Linked DNA regions of Homo sapiens. The protein of the gene in region 2 interacts with the protein of the main gene of each other region in a pairwise test. Each region holds a gene or a part of one and is shown on either strand. Other genes may lie near its edges.

Region 1 (3,500 bases), on a different chromosome or scaffold from region 2:
ACAATTGTTACATCTTCTTGCTGAAGTGAAAATAACCTTGTCTCTTTTTGTTTAAAGTCTGCTTTACCTGATATAAGTATAGCTATTCTCCCTTGCTTTTGGTTTCCATTTGTATGGATTTTTTTTCCATCCCTTATTTTTATTCTATATGTGTCTTTTTAGGTGAAGTGAGTTTCTTTTAGGCAGCATATACTTAGGTCTTTTTTTTTTTTAATTCATTCAGCTAGTCTATATCTTTTCAGTTGGGAATTTAGTCTGTTTACAGCCAAGGTTATTATTGATAAGTGAGGACTTAACATCCACCATTTTGTTGTTTTCCTGTTGTCTTGTATATCTTTTGTTCCTTTCTTTTTCTCTTATAGTTAATCATTGTGGTTTGGTGGTTTTCTGTAGTGACAAGGTTTGATTCTTTTCTCTTTCTCCTCATATATCTGCTCTACCAATGAGCTTTATACTTTTGGTGTGTTTTCATGACAGTGATTTTCACTTCCAGATGTAAGTGAAAATCACTTAAGCATTTCTGGTAAGGCCAGGTGAGTGGTGACAAATTCCTTCAGTTTTTGCTTACCTCGAGAAGGCTTTATTTCTTCCTAATTTCTGAAGGATAACTTTGCTGGGTATAGTATTCTTAGCTAGCAATTTTTTTTCTTCTTTCACCATTTTGAGTTTATAACTCTATTCTCTCCTCGCCTGTGAGGTTTCTGTAGCAAAATTTACTAGTCTAATGCAGTTCTCTTATGTGACTTGACAATTTTCTCTTGCTGTTTTTAGAACTCTCTGTCTTTGACTTGTGACAATTTGCCTATAATGTACCTCTAAGAGGACCTTTTTGGGGTTGAATCTATTTGGGGAATTTTGAGTTTCCTGGAGCTGGATGTTCAAATATCCCTCCTCCACAACCCCCACCACTAAATTGGGAAGTTTTCAGTTATTATTTTATTAAACAGGCTTTCTATACTTTTTCCTTATCTTCTCCTTCTGGAAATTCCATAATACAAATATCTGTTTGTTTAATGTTTTCCAATAAGTCTTATAGGAATTCTTCACTCATTTTCATTCTTATTTCTTTTTTCTTTTCTCTGACTGGGTAACTTCAAAAGACCTAGCTTTAAGTTCAGAGATTCTTTTTTCTGCTTGATCAAGTCTGCTGCTGAAGCTCTCTATTGTATTTTATATTTTATTCATTGAATTCTTCAACTGCAGGATTCTTGTTTTGTTCTTTTTATGATTTTTATCTCTTTATTGAATTTTTCATTTATATTGTGAATTTTTTTCTTATTTTATTTAATTGTGTATCTGTGTTTCCTTGTATCTAATTGAGTTTCCTTACAATCATTATTTTACATTTTTTTGGCAATTAATTGATTTCCTTTTAATTGGAGTCTGTTACTAGAGAGTTATTATATTCCTTTGTTGGTCTCTTATTTCCTTGCTTTTTCATGTTTCTTGTGTCCCTGCATTGATGTCTGTGTATCTAGTGAAATAATCACCTTTTTCAAACTTTCTGGAGTGATTTTCATAAAGAAAGTCTTTCATCCTGCAGTTGAGTTTTACTGTGCAGTTAGAAAAGGTGTAGTGACTCTGTTTCCAGATAGGTATAGAGATAGAGTCTCTGTGCAGCTTCTTCAGTTGTATTCAAGGTCAGGAATAACTGTGGGTGCCTCATAGCCTACGCTTAGAGGTTTGTGGCAATGGCACTGGCAACATAAGTTTTTAATGTTCTTTGTGTTAAGGGCTTCTGGGGTCCTCCTATTCTGGTTTTCTCTAAAATAAGGAGACTTAGCTGAGCGCATCCCTTTTGGTGTCAAGTCTGACATGGCCTACAAGCAGCTGCAGTGGCATGGGTTCTACGTGCAGTGATCAGGATTCTACATGCAGTAGGAGTTTTCAGCTCAGTATCTCATAAAGCTATTGAGGCAACTGGGCTTGGGGTGCAGCTTCACCCCTTGTGGCAGGGTTGGATGTAGGTTACCCATAGAGCCAGGATCTATGATTCTGAGGGACCCCCTAGCAGCTCAGGCTCAGGGTGCCAGGTTGTAGCTGTGATTCTACCCCTGGGGGGCAGGGCACAGCACTGGCCTGACTCCAGGGAATAAGGAGTGCTCTGGAACTTTGGCCTTGGGAGCAGGGTATGGCTGCAATTCAGAAACCTGAGTCAATAGGGCTCAGTGTCAACTCAGGTTCCAAGGGATGAGGCACTGGGTAGTAGTGATTGTAGACCCTGGGATAGTGGTGCTCAGCAGTATCCCAGAATGTGTGGGGCCAAGTGTATTTGCTTTCAGTACTCCAGAATGGTGGAGGACAGCTGTTGTTTGTTCCCTGGGTGACAGGTGGGTAGGAAAAAACACAGCAATGACTCCACTCCCTAGATAGAGGGGTACTTCTGCATCTGAGACTCTAGAGAGCTAGGCCAGTGCTGGGGAATCGAAGTCTAAAATTGTTCAGTTTATAGAGCAAGGTGTCTCAGCTCAGTTTCTGCTCAGCTCAGCCAGAGCACTAATTCCCCAAGGGACAATGTGCCACTTCAGCTCAGGCTTGAAGGATGTGACTGTTCTGGGCTGCACAAGCACTGTTTTCTTGGGATGCGGGGCATCAGTTCAGCTTAAGTAATGGAGTGCATGACTGCTCTGGATGGCCAAGGCACAATTTCCTAGGATGCAGGGCACCACTTCAACTTAGACACCAGGGAGACATGACTGCTCTGAATAGCCAAGGTACTGTTTTCCCAAGAGACAGGATGCTGCTTCAGCAGGGGCAGGGGGAGGAGTTGGTAGAGCAATTCCACCTCCACTTGACCCCACAGGAAAAAGTGTTAACAGCTGTTAACAGCACATATTGGGGATGTGGGGCTCTGGGGATGGGGTGGTTCAGGGGTGGTTTAGTCTCAGGGATGAAGGGGAGCCATGACTACTTACTCCTTGAGTAAGGCTCAGTCTAGCTGTAGTTCCTGTTCCAAGATGCCATAGCCAATAGTCACATGGGCCACAGCAGGTGGGGCACAGTGTCAACTCCTTCTCTGGCTAAGCACAGCTATATAGACTCCAGGCAGCTTCACCATGTGGGCTTGGTGCCTAAGAAGACTGCAGAGAACACCAGTGGGAAGGTCTGTTGGTGTCCAGGGTGTTGATGGAGATTGTTGGAGTCATCCTGCTTACCTCCTCACCATAAGAAGTTCCTCCTGGCTTCCAGCTGATCCCACTTGGGGGATGGGATGGTGAAGGCCTGGCATTTCCTTATTCTCTATGTAGCCATCCTGAGTTTTTGTGCTCACCCAAGTTTCTATTAGTTTTAAAATGCAGCTGCTTTTCCATTGTTCTGGCTGTCTTTGACAGAGGCATAAGCACTAGGGGCTTCTAGTTGGCTATCTTGCTGCTATCTCTCTGACCTTTAATACTTTTAGAAAGAAGATTAACCGTTCTCCTGATCAAGGTATCAAACTATTTATTATCTTTGACAGTACCAAAAAGTCATACATACATGTAATTCATTCATTCATATTT
Region 2 (3,103 bases):
GGAGGAAAATGAGAGATGGCCATGCGGTCGCTCCTTGCAAGACTGCCCGTCTCCCACACCCTGGCAGGATCACGGGGAATTCCACCAAGGTGAGATCAGTCTGTGATCAGCTTTGCCTCCTTGGCCTCTGTGGACACGGACGGAGGAGCAAGGTTGTCAGGGCACCTGTGTGAAGCAGTTTCCCTACCTATGGGACACACAGCAAGTGAGGTCTAGAGCTGGGTTCCTCAACTCTGGCGCTACTGATGTTTCGGGCTGGATCATCCTTTGCAGGGAAGGCTGGCCTGTGCATTATGGGATGTTTAGTGGTATCCCTGGCCTCTACCCGATAGATGGCCTTCGCAGTCCCTCCCCTAGTCGTGACAACCAAAAATGTCTCCAGCCATCGTCAAGTGTTTCCTGGGGGCACAGTCACCCCTGAATGGTTGTGACTGTGACCGTTCTAGACCCAATTGCTGGTCTAGAATGCAGGGTGAGGGGGACGCTTACCTCCTGCACACTCTACCCTCTGTCTGCAGGTGGGTGGGCTTTGAGCATGCTGGCTTCCAAGGGCAGCAGTACATTCTGGAACGAGGCGAATATCCAAGCTGGGATGCCTGGGGCGGCAACACGGCCTACCCCGCCGAGAGGCTCACCTCCTTCCGGCCTGCGGCCTGTGCTGTAAGTTCTACCACTGCTGCATCCCGGGGAGGCCCAAGCCCCTCATGTGGGCACTTCGGAATCAAAGGTTCCAGAGTTGAAATTCTCATGTCGCCACTTCAAGCTGTGTGACAAGGGCTGTTCAGTCTCTTTCCTCTCCAAGCCTCGGTTTCTTCATCTTGAAATGGGGCAATAGTACCAATGTTCTTGGGAAGAAGAACGTATAACATCTGACCAGAGCCTGCCTTAAACTCTCTGCTCACAGCAACCCTGGTTGTGATAGGAGCCCCTGCCAGTTTTGTGCCCTTTTTTTTTTGTGATTCAGGGACCCTGAGAGAATCTGGGTACCAGGGATGGTAGGGCCAAGTGGAGAGGAAAGGTTTCATTTCTTGCTCCTAATTCAGCATCAGTGCTCCTGATCTTACATTTTACTGCTGTTTTTGGAGTGTGGGTGGAGGTGGGCATTATTATTCCCATCTCACCAATGAAAACATTGAGGCTCAGAAAGGTGTATTTTAGGCTGGGCATGGTGGCTCACACCTGTAATCCCAGCACTTTGGGAGGCCAAGGCGGGTAGATCACTTGAGGCCAGGAGTTCAAGATCAGCTTGGCCAACATGGTGAAACCCTGTCTCTACTGAAAATACAAAAAAATTAGTTGAGTGTGGTGGCACATGCCTGTAGTCCCAGCTACTCAGGAGGCTGAGGCAGGAGAATCACTTGAACCCGGGAGACAGAGGTTGCAGTGAGCCAAGATCGCACCACTGCATTCCAGCCTGGGCGCCAGAGCAAGACTCTGTCTCAAAACAAAACAAAACAAAAAAACAAAAACAAACAAACAAACACAAAAACAACAAAGTGTGTTTTATTTTTCAATTCTTATTGATTTAAAATGACATAAGTCACCATATTTACCATCCAAAATTCTGAAGGAAAATCCTGCTATGGTCAGGGTTGAGTATCCCTTACCTGAAATGCTTGGGACCAGAAGTGTTTTGGATTTTGAATATTTTCCCCAGATTTTGCAATATTTGTAATACTTACAGTTGAGCAGCCTGAATCCAAAAATCCAAAATCTGAAATACTGCAGTGAGCATTCTTTGAGTGTCATGTCGTCACTCAAAAAGTTTTAGATTTTGGAGCATTTTGGATTTCGGATTTTTAGGTTAGGGATGTTCAACCTATACATTTGTGTCTCTATGTATATACACATCCAAATCAACATCTACATCTATATCTGTATAATCTATATATCTTATCTATATTGCACACATAATTTTGTCATAAAATTGGAATCATAATGAATCTAAGGCTTGGAAACTAGCTTTTCTCACTGAGCAAATGTGTCGCAATCATCAGTCCAGGTGATTAAATCTCACTTCCATCGTTTTTCATAGCTCCCTAGTATTCTGTTTTGTGAATAAGTCCATTTGTTCATTTATTCTGCAAACAGTCTAGATATTGTGCTAATATAGGGACCCGTGGCGGGCTGCAACAGAAACAATCCCTCATTCCCAGCAGTTTGCAACTCCTGATTTCATTTAGTCCTCAAAAGAACCCTGAAAAATGGGTAGGGTTAGTTTCATTTTATAGATACAGGAACAGAGGCTCAGAAATCCTGTCTAACCTCAGTCAGTTGGTAAGTGGCAGCTGCCTCCTAGCAGGAAGGATTTGAGATGATATCTCTACACCTCCTTTCTTTCCTTCTTTTTTCTTTTCTTTTCTTTTCCTTTCCCCTCCCTCCCTCCCTCCCTCCCTCCTTTCTTTCTTTCTTTCTTTCTTTCTTTCTTTCTTTCTTTCTTTCTTTCTTTCTTTCTTTCTTTCTTTTTCTTTCTTTCTTTCTTTCCTTCTTTCTTTTTCTTTCTTTCTTTCTTTCTCTTTCTTTCCTTTTCTTTCTTTCTTTCTTTCTTTCTTTCTTTCTTTCTCTTTCTTTCCTTTTCTTTCTTTCTTTCCTTCTTTCATTCTCTGTCTTTCTTTTTCTTTCTTTTTCTCTTTCTTTCTTTCTCTTTCTCTCTCTCTCCTTCCTTCCTTCCTTCTCTCTCTCTCTTTCTTTCTTTCTTTCTTTTGATGGAGTTTTTGCTTTTGTTGTCCAGGCTGGAGTGCAATGCCACAATCTCGGCTCACTGCAACCTCTGCCTCCCAGGTTCAAGCGATTCTCCTGCCTCAGTCTCCCAAGTAGCTGAGATTACAGGCATGTGCCACCACGCTTGGCTAATTTTTTGTATTTAGTAGAGACAGGGTTTCACCATGTTCGTCGGGCTGGTCTTGAACTCCTGACCTCAGGTGATCCACCCTCCTCGGCCTCCCAAAATGCTGGGATTATAGGCGTGAGCCACCGCGCCGGGCCTCTACACCCTTTTTCTTAACCACAGTGTAATGCCTCAGCTTACCACTGGATCCCCAATTTTGGACATAAAAGTTGACTCCTTTTTTTGTTTGTTTGTTTTTGAAAAAACTGTTATGAT

Evidence for each region.
Region 1: the proteins of CRYBA4 (region 2) and FHL5 interact in binary tests that used the Homo sapiens proteins (3 or more experiments, as listed by UniProt).

Annotation. Positions count from the first base shown.
Region 1 is NC_000006.12:96,569,628-96,573,127, forward strand, and holds part of FHL5 (four and a half LIM domains protein 5), read left to right. Parts: intron 1-3,500. UniProt on the Homo sapiens protein: May be involved in the regulation of spermatogenesis. Stimulates CREM transcriptional activity in a phosphorylation-independent manner.
Region 2 is NC_000022.11:26,624,963-26,628,065, forward strand, and holds part of CRYBA4 (beta-crystallin A4), read left to right. Parts: intron 1-518; coding exon 519-660; intron 661-3,103. UniProt on the Homo sapiens protein: Crystallins are the dominant structural components of the vertebrate eye lens.